2 linked regions of the Homo sapiens genome follow. The protein of the gene in region 1 purifies or fractionates together with the protein of each later gene. This does not show direct contact. Each region holds a gene or a part of one and is shown in the gene's direction. Other genes may lie near its edges.

What was found. The genes of interacting proteins can lie anywhere in the genome.
Region 2: the proteins of SCFD2 (region 1) and C19orf25 purify together in Homo sapiens (affinity purification with mass spectrometry; 2 studies listed by BioGRID and IntAct, with this or other methods). This does not show direct contact.

What each region holds. Positions count from the first base shown.
Region 1 is NC_000004.12:53,272,057-53,279,095, reverse strand, and holds part of SCFD2 (sec1 family domain-containing protein 2), read left to right. Parts: intron 1-5,094; coding exon 5,095-5,270; intron 5,271-7,039. UniProt on the Homo sapiens protein: May be involved in protein transport.
Region 2 is NC_000019.10:1,472,701-1,476,254, reverse strand, and holds the end of C19orf25 (UPF0449 protein C19orf25), read left to right. Parts: intron 1-996; coding exon 997-1,223; 3' UTR 1,224-3,054; downstream 3,055-3,554.

The sequences.
Region 1 (7,039 bases):
AAGTATGAATAAATATTCTGTCCATTACTTTTTCAACACTTGTCTAGTTGCTTGCTGTTTTAGTTTATATAAACTAAGAAATTTTACTTCAGTGGTTAGTCTTACTGCAGCATTTTTGATGGTCAATTAGTTGATTTCCATTTGCTTTTGGTAAGGTTATGGTTAAATTTAAAAATTTTAAAAATGTCACTGGCCTTTTTTTTTTTTTTTTAGAGCATCTGTGTGAATTACTTTTTAACTTAAATTCCAGTTAGCCTCTTAGGGATTTTTAGGAAAAAAAAATCTGCTGTCGTGATTTATACCTAACGAAGGAGTAGTGTCATGAGTGTGTAAAAAACGACATACAAAGGGGAATAGAACAGAGTAGAGAAGGTGAATAACTACTAAATCTGCAAGGAACACAAGGTAGTGTGGTGTTGATATTTTCTGTTAGGAGATATACCCATTTGTTCCTTTAGATCATATGCCTTATATGAGAAGGTGACGTTACATAAATATGGTAGCTGAGTCTGGGTCTCAGCTAGGAAATGCTGATTGGATAAAAAATTTGACTTTTTTTTTTTTTTTGAGATGGAGTCTCACTCTGTCGCCCAGGCTGGAGTGCAGTGGCACGATCTTGGCCACTTCCCAGGTTCAAGTGATTCTCCTGCCTCAGCTGCCTGAGTAGCTGGGACTATAGGTGAGCACTACCATGCCCAGCTAATTTTTCTCTTTCTTTTTTCTTTTTTTTTTTTTTTAAGATGGAGTCTCTCTCTGCCTCCCAGGCTGGAATGCAGTGGTGCAATCTCGGCTTACTCCACCTCCCGGGTTCAAGTGATTCTCCTGCCTCAGCTCCTGAGTAGCTGGAACTACAGGTGCCCACCACCACTCCCGGCTAATATTTGAATTTTTAGTAGAGACAGGGTTTCACCTTGTTGGTCAGGCTGGTCTCCAACCCTGGACCTCGAGTGATCCACCCACCTCGGCCTCCAAAAGTGCTGGGATTACAGGCGTGAGCCACTGCGCCTGGCGAGGACTGTTTTTTTTTTTTTTGTTTTTTGTTTTGAGACGGAGTCTCGTTCTGTCCCTGGGCTAGAGTGCAGTGGCCGGATCTCCGCTTACTGCAAGCTCCGCCTCCCGGGTTCACGCCATTCTCCTGCCTCAGCCTCCCGAGTAGCTGGGACTACAGGCGCCCACCACCAAGCCCAACTAATTTTTTTGCATTTTTAGTAGGGACGGGGTTTCACCGTGTTAGCCAGGATGGTCTCCATCTCCTGACCTCGTGATCTGCCCGCCTCGGCCTCCCAAAGAGCTGCGATTACAGGCGTGAGCCACCGCGCCGAGCCTGGACTGTTTTTTAATCAAAGACACTTTTATCTTTAAAATGAACATACGGTTATTACAATAGAAATCTGAGCAGATCCTCTGATGGCTTCCTCTGGTGATTCCCGTTTCCTGGAGTCTCTCTAAAACATAGTTATAGAAGAAATGAATTGTATATATTTTGAATCTATTTAATTCCTCTTCTTTCAGTTGAGGAGATGGGGTTGGAGAGGTAGGCAGTTTTCATATCATGTAGAGCCTTTCACACCTTCAAGACATTTTGTATTTTTCTTTGGCAGTACTTACCACTATCATGATTAAGTAATTATTTGTATGATCATTAAATGAATGTTTGTCTTGATAGACTAAGTTCTATGTGTTTAGGAGCCACACTGCCATCACCTGCAGTACAGTGTTTATATAAATAAATGGAGCTCATGGCAATCTTAAGTTTTGAAACCATTTTGTGTGAAAATTTGTTCTTACATATTTAATATAATAGATGTCAGAGAATATCATTTCTTAAAAATGTTAATCATTTGCACAAAAGGTCCCTATCCCTTTAGAGAGAATGACACGTAAGAGGCTGAATTAATTAGGAGATCATCAAGGAGTTGTTTTCTTTATTTGTTGGCTACAAGCATAGGGGTTTTTGTCTGGATTTGTTCACAGGTTTATTCCTAGAAACAGGAATAGTGCCTGTTACAGAAATATATGTTGAATCAATGAATCAATAAAAGTGAATGACACTCACAACTCAGTAATAAGAAAACAAACAACCTAATTAAAAAATGAGCAAAAGATTTGACCAGACACTTCACCAAAACAGATATAGGATGGCAAAAGACACACATGAAAAGGTGGTTAACATCATTAGTCATTAGGAAAATGAAATTTTAAACCACAATGAGATACTGCTACACATCTGTTAGAATCATTAAAATAAAAATAGCTGACAAAACCAAGTGTTGGTGAAGTTGTAAGGCAACTAAAACTCTCATATGTTGCTGGTGGTACAGCCCACTTTGGAAATCAGTTTGCCAATTTCTTATAAAATTAAACATGTGCTTAAACTAAATACTGCATGTTCTCACTTATAAGTGGGAGCTAAATGATGGGAACACATGGACACTAAGAGGGGAACAGCTGATATTGGAGCTTACTTGAGGGTGGAGGGTGGGAGGAAGGAGAGGATCAGAAAAAATAACTATTGGGTACTAGGCATAGTACCTCGGTGACAAAACATTCTGTACCACAAATCCCCATGACACGAGTTTACCTATATAACAAACCAGTACATGTACCTCTGAACCTAAAATAAAAATTAAAAAAAAATAACTAAATGAAACTATAAATGTATATGTGGGTCAGTACCAAGAAGTTTTTTTCACAAACCCCTAAGTATCTGATTTCCACTCAAGTCTTTTAAACTTGTTTGATGTTGCTGAGTAGCAGAGGTCTTTTATTTTCCACTTTTTAACGTACCTAAAAAGCATGAACCCTGCATTTCAATGGACTGTATTGTACGCTTTTTTGCTATAAAACTTTTTCATCAAACACAATTACATTGTTCAATTTTGTTGTAAACTTAACATAAGATGCACTGTTGATATGCTTTCTGATATGTTTGATAAGAGTGATAAAATAAAGCTTAAGAATTAAAAAAAAATTAAAAGTAAGCATATACTTAACATCTGTCCTAGAAACCTGCTCCTAGAAATTTGCCTAAAGGAAAATGAAACATATGTATACACACACACACACACACACACACAAAGACCTGTACACAGATGTTTGTGAAGGCTTTATTCATAATTTCTAAAAAATTGAAAGCAACCCAAATACTCATTAACTAGTGAATAGATAAATAAATGGCTAAATAAACTATGATACATCCACACAATGAAATATCACTCAGCAAGAAAAAAGAGCAAACTACTAATACAAGCAGCAACGTGGATGAATCTCAGATACATTATGGTTCAGTGAAAGAAGCCAGACTCAAATGGCTACATACTATGTGATTCCATTTATGTGACACTCTAGAAAGACAAAACTGTGAGATGGAAATCAGATAAACACGGATAAGGGTTCATCAACCAACAGGGCTGGAACTAGGGAAAGTGAATGGACTACCAAGAAGGGGAGCTGTTTGGAATGATGGGAATGTTCTGTATTTTGACTGTGACAGTGGTTATCCAACCATATCCATTTGTCAAAATTCATAGAACTGTACACTAGAAAAGGCTGAATTTTACTGTATGTAGAAAATACCTTAATAAACCTGATAAAGAAACAAAGTATTAATGAGGTTTTTTTCTATGAGTACTTGAGCAAGCAGATTGTTAGCTTGCTGCTTTGAGAATCAGGAACAAACCCATGCTTTACCAAGGGACCAAAGAAACTCATGAGACTCACCCTCCTACTTATTCCCACTGTTCTTTTTCTTTAAATGCTTACCCTGATAAACTGGTAATGAAGAACTTAAACATTCTTTATCTCTTCAAAAAAATTAATGAAAAGATAGAAAGATATGTTGTAGGCTTTTGAGTTTCATGTGGCAAGGTCTTTACTTTTAGCAAAAACCATTTATTAAGTGATATCTGCCATTTAGCACTGGGTAAGACATTACTTTCTTAGCACGTCAGGCAGGACTAATAGATGCAGCACAAGCCTCGTTTTCTACCTCAAGGAGTTGCCATGAGAATCAGTAAAGGGTGTGTTTGTGTAAGCACTGTGTAAATTGCTAAATAAATGCAGGTGGTTTCATTGCCAAATACTTAACAAGCAAATAACTTGGATTTCAGTTTATAACAAGTTTATAACAAGCAAATAAACTTGGATTTCAGTATCAAAGAACAACCCACAAACATGGCATGGGTGAAACATATAGGAATGAATTACTTGGCTTACATCTATGTTTGGCCCCATTGCCTTTTTGCCTGGTGGGGAGAATCCGATGTCCAAGAGCTTTGCGCATAGCATGGAGGAATGGCAGGAATGAAATTTTACAGACTGGAGAGTGGGAGGAGACTCGGTGGAAAGACAGCTATTGGCAAAACTTGGAGTTAGGGGCTCTGAAGGAGTGAATCCTCAACAGTTTGTGTGTTTGTAGATGTACAAGTGTTTGTATAGTCTCTATGCTTTTATGAGGTAGGCTCTCTTGTTCTAAATGTAGGTGACCATTGTAGCAAATGTGCTGTTCCCCACACCAACCCTTTCTTCTGATACCTCCTCTTCCAGTGGTTTTGCACTGTAGTTCTTGATACATTTTTGTTCCATGTAACTGCTTTTATCTCACGAATATTGTCATGAACTCACTGATATCAATGGTAAAGTTTTAGATGAGAAATAATCTATTTCTCATCTTCTTTTAGGTACATACACACACAATTAGAAATCTTATCTTTTTCCCTCTTAGATTGCTATGTCATATGTCATAAAGAGGTACTCCAAGTTGAGCTCAACAAATATTTATTTGTGTGACTTTATTTGAAAATTTATTTACAGAGTATTACATAATGATAAAATGAATTCTACTGGCAACATGACCTTGGCCAGATCCCTTAATTAGCATCCCTGTTTCCTTACTTGCAAAATGCAGGTATTAATAATAGGACCAGTTTTGCTCTTGTCACTATATAGTTGTAAGAATCACAATAGCTTAGGAAAGCTTGCAGTCAGCTCTGAAGTTCTGCCCAAATACAAGACAGTGGTATTATTAATGGAATCCTTCTCATTATTTGTACTATTCCCAGAAGGGGGTACACTGATAAATTCTTATGTTTCCAGGGAGAGTCACACCGGGACAGCTCATGTCCTATATTCAGCTCTTCAAGAACAACCTCAAAGCTCTAATGAATCATTGTGGCCTCCTCCAGCTTGGACTGGCCACAGCTCAAACGTTGAAACACCCACAGACTGCCAAGTGGGACAACTTTCTGGCTTTTGAAAGGCTCCTTCTTCAGGTATGTTGCTATGGGAACCTCGTGGGATCTTAATAATTAATGTTTTGACTTCCAGAGAAAAACCTTGACATTTATTATAGCCTTAGTAATAAATCATATTGTTGACATGTGCCCTGCTTCATATTCTCTAAGTGCCCCCTAGTTAAAATTCAAGTAGAAACTTTTTTCACACCTGTTTAAAAAAAAATTTTGACAGTAACATCTTTGGCTTCTCATTTAATACCAAGGATGTTTTTTGAGCATTGGACTAACCTCTGGACACCTCTTTCAATTTTATGCCATTTGGACCTTTCTTGCTCTTCATGGCATCTTTATTTGATCCTTGCTACTTTTTCTGTAACATATTATCGCTATTTACATTTCTTCTGACATTACCTAGTTTCTAGTCCTTAAGCAACATATAGCATGTGTCTTAAAATGGCGTTTAGTAAAAAATGAAGGAAGTGATCTCCATTTGTAGTGTTTATACAGATATTTGTATGTGGGATAGGAACTTTTCATGACTGATGAAATATTTTCATGGGAAACTTTTAAAAAAATATGTAGTATGTGTTTTTTAAAATTATGAAGTATTTTTAAAAATTATACAGTACTTTAAAAAGGACAGAGGATTGTGAAGCATAAATGTACATAAAATGGCAAGTATCTGTAAACTTTCCACATAGACTCAATATGATTTATCATTATTTTCATATTTATCATGGATCCTTTTTCATTAAAGAAATAAAACTAGAGATAAAGTTGAAGCATTTTTGATACTATATAACCATCTCTAATCTGATTTTCCTTTTTCTTTCCCTAGAGATAATTACAAGCTCAATTCACTGTTTTTATATTTTTATTAGATGTTTGCTTTCTCATAAATAATATAGAGCATTTATGCTATGGGTTTTAATTTTACATAAGTGATATTATACTATAAATATCCCTAAATAGCTTGCTTTTTTCTCTCAAGGTTCTATTTTTTTTTAATTATACTTTAAGTTTTAGGGTACATGTGCACAACGTGCAGGTTAGTTACATATGTATACATGTGCCACGTTGATGTGCTGCACCCATTAACTCACGTCATTTAACATTAGGTATATCTCCTAATGCTATCCCTCTCCCCTTCCCCCCACCCCACAACAGGCCCCGGTATGTGATGTTCCCCTTCCTGTGTCCATGTATTCTCATTTTTCAATTCCCACCTATGAGTGAGAACATGCGGTGTTTGGTTTTTTGTCCTTGCGATAGTTTGCTGAGAATGATGGTTTCCAGCTTCATCCATGTCCTTACAAAGGACATGAGCTCATCCTTTTTTATGGCTGCATAGTGTTCCATGGTGTGTATGTGCCACATTTTCTTAATCCAGTCTATCATTGTTGGACATTTGGGTTGGTTCCAAGTCTTTGCTATTGTGAATAGTGCTGCAATAAACATACGTGTGCATGTGTCTTTATAGCGGCATGATTTCTAATCCTTTGGGTATATACCCAGTAATGGGATGGCTGGGTCAAATGGTATTTCTAGTTCTAGATCCCTGAGGAATTGCCACACCAACTTCCACAATGGTTGCACTAGTTTACAGTGCCAACAGTGTAAAAGTGTTCCTATTTCTCCACATCCTTTCCAGCACCTGTTGTTTCCTGACTTTTTAATGATCGCCATTCTAACTGGTGTGAGATGGTATCTCATTGTGGTTTTGATTTGCATTTCTCCGATGGCCAGTGATGATGACCATTTTTTCATGTGTCTTATGGCTGCATAAATGTCTTCTTTTGAGAAGT
Region 2 (3,554 bases), on another chromosome or scaffold:
CACGTGGAGCCTTCGTCCGTGGGAGACCACACTGCCGAGGGGCAGGCCAGAGCCGAGGGGCCCCTGACGCTTCTCTGAGTGACCCTGAAGTCGGTGCTGCTTCAGCCCTGCTGCACTGGGCTTGCATACGTGGGGGAGCAGGGAGCCATACGTAGTTTCTGCTGAATGTGGGAGTCACCAGGACGTCAATGCCCACCTCTCACCTTCGCCACCCCTGCCTCCCTAAGTGTGTGCTCCAGGAGGTTGCACGGCCCCTGGAGAGGTTTTCGGTGGCGGGCTTGTTGCGTCTCTGGCTTCCAGAGACAGCAGGAATGAGAGCCAGGCCAGCTCAGTGGAGTCCATCCCGGTGGGTGCCACGGCTTTTGCAGGAATGGAAGCCCCGCCCCCAGGAGGGCCACTGCTGGCGAGGCTTGAGCTCTTTCTGTGACCCGATCCCCCTGGTCACACGCTTTGCTAAGGCGGGTAGCCTAGAGCTGGAAGCCCCTCCTGCCACCCAGCCACTGTGCCTCTCCCAGCTGATGGACGAGGAAGCCTCCATTACTTGATTTTTGTTTTTATTTATTTTTGAGACAGGGTCTCATTCTGTCACCCAGGCTGGAGTACCGTGGCACGATCATAGCTTATTGCAGCCTCGGCCTCCCAGTCTCAAGCGATCCTCCTGCCTCTGCCTCCAGAGAAGTAGGGACCACAGATGCGTGCTACCACGCCCAGCTAATTTTTGTATTTGTATTTTTTGGTAGAGATGGGGGTGTCACTATGTTGTCCAGGCTGGTCTCTAACTCTTGGGCTCAAGTGTTCCTCCCGCCTCGGCCTCCCAAAGTGCTGGATTACAGGCGTGAGCCACCACACCTGGCTGCATCCGTCATGTTAAGAAGACCCCGGCTGGCAAGCTCACTCGGGGACTGCAGGGAACCCTGCCCTTTGGGGGCAGTAGTGAGGGGTGCCCAGGAGGATGGGGTGGTCAGCAGGCAGTGATGCTGCTGTGTCCTGTCTCAGACCCCCCAGTTCCCTTCAGGATGATGGAGGATGCGGAGGCCCCGGGAGAGCAGCTCTACCAGCAAAGCCGGGCCTACGTGGCTGCCAACCAGCGGCTGCAGCAGGCGGGCAACGTGCTGAGGCAGAGGTGTGAGCTCCTGCAGCGAGCCGGCGAGGACCTGGAGCGGGAGGTGGCCCAGATGAAGCAGGCAGCATTACCGGCAGCCGAGGCTGCCTCCTCAGGCTGACCTCTCGGGGCCTGCAGGCTTGGGCAGCGCACAAGGTGGCCTGCACCCAGGCTTTCCCTGGGGGTCCGTCGGCCCCAGACTGGCATTCACGGGGTCCCAGCCCACGTGGGTGTTGACACAGGCGCCCCTCCTGATGCTGGGGCTGCGGTTCATCCGTCGTCTCATTCATGCCGAGTTGGTGGGACCCACCCAGCTGGCTCCGTCCTGCGTGACCTGAGGGCCCCACTGGGGTTCTGGAAGAGGATAGGGACATTATTGCTGTACTGTGATTCTGTCGTCAGCTCACAGTGGCCGTGCTCTGCAGTGGGGCCCCTGGGAGCAGGTGCCACCTCCTTCCTCTCCCGGGGCAGGCACTCGCCTGTCCACTTCTGAGTCCAGGTGTTGGGATCGAGGTGTTAACTGTGATTCCATCCAGCGAGTGCCCACCCAATGTCAGAGCAGCCCGAGGGCCAGCCTGAGCCCCTGACCCCACTTCCTTCTGGGCCCCGGGCTCCTCCCACAAGCCACGTTGATCTTCACAACGACCCTGGGCCGCTGGGGTCACCCAAGAGAAGCAGCCCTGAGACCCAGCCAGGCTGGGCCTAGCTCCACGGCACGGGTGTCTCCCAGCCACTGCCCTTGCTGGAGGACCGCTGTGAGTCACTGGCCAGGAGCCCAGGGTGTCCTGAGTCTCATAGCCACCCTGCCAGCTGCAGCAGGTCCTGGGCCTGCTTCCCTGCGGGTTCTGGCCCTGGGGGAGGGGGCGTTAGTGCGGCGGAGGGTCTTGCCAAAGGCTTTTCATCCTAAATAGCAACTTGAGTGGAAACCTGGGCAAGGCGGCCCAGAGGCTGGGCCCTGCACATAAAGCTTTCGTGTGTGTCTGGCCGTCTGAATGGTGCCTCTGTGAGCGGCTCCGTCCCGGGGCCCCGGAAGCTGGGGAGGGATGGGTACCGGCGACCCCGGGAACCCTGCTCAGTCCTGCCGGGCACTGCATGCAGGGACCGTCCGCCTGACCCAGAGACCTGGGGCTGCCTCACCCTCTCTCCAGACCCACAGCCAGCTTTGTTTCTTGAATGTGGAAGATGTTTCTTATTCCCTGAAGAAAGGGGGCCTGCCACACACAGCCTGGGAGGCGCCTCATCCAGAAACTGGGACTTGGCTAGCCCGGCCTGGGCCCTAGGGACTTCTCACTGGTCATGCTTCTGAAGCTGCTCACCTGGCCGAGGGAGGTCCCGGCAGTGTCCCAGGGTGGAAGGTGGGGAGGGGGCCGGCTCCTGCCATCCCTTCCCACCCTGCACTTCTGTGCTGCTTGCAGTCATAGCTTTCCTTGTCCCCCCAGCTGGGCCAGGGCTGTGCTCCCTGAAGTGGCTTTGACGTGGGGCCGTCCCAGCTCCCGCAGCCCCTGTCCACCATTGACTCTCCCCGGTAGTGGCTGCTGTGGCTGCCCCATCCCAGCTGTTGCACCAGCCACAGCTCCTAGTGGCTCATGGGTGCCTCCTGCCCCACACTGGGGCCTGCCATAATAACTGGCCCAGGTACCAATGCCCAGGTTGGACCCCCTGTCTGGGGTGCTGTGCACCCCCTGGAGCCTGCCCTCCCTTGGGACCAGGGGGAGACTCCTGGCCTCAGCCAGTGCCTCCCCGGCCCATCTGGGTGGGGTGCCCACAAACCCTGTGCCCCCAGTTTCTGCTTTCTGGCTCTGCTTCCAGGGATCTAACCTGGGGGGTCTCAGCAATTCTGTGGCAGCACATAGACAGCGATGAACCTACCCGCCCACAGCCCATTTTGAGGAAGAGGTGATGGCGGCAGGCAATGCAAGAGCTCAGTTTATTAAATGTGTGCGAGTCGGACAGCTGACGGTGTCGTCCTTACGCCGGACAGATGGCTTTACATTTAGGGAAGGACAGGCTTTCACTATTTACCACTATTTACACGTCCGTTTAACACTGCAGAGACCCGGTACAGAAACGTGGGGTGGCGGCTAGGGGAATCAGACAGACCAGGCGCGCGCCATCAGGGCTGGACCGGGGCAACAGATGGGGCCGGGTGAGGTAATGCTGTCGGAGCTCGGGAGGACCATGCCGGTGGGCACGGCGCCCCGAGTTCAGCACCCACGTGTGGTCATGTTGGGGGCCAGTGGCGGTCACTGTCCATCAGCCTCAGGACACCTCCACCCTCCCTGCGTCCTCAGACCCTCAGCTCCTTAGGACTGGCCCTGGAGCATTGGGGGGCAGACGAGGACCCCTTGTCACCCTGGTGCAGAGAGGCCAGGTGGCCAGGCAGGGGCCGCGGTGGGAGGGAGGCCTTGCAGTGGGCGTACCTTGAGTTGATTGTCCAGAGACCGCGGACTGC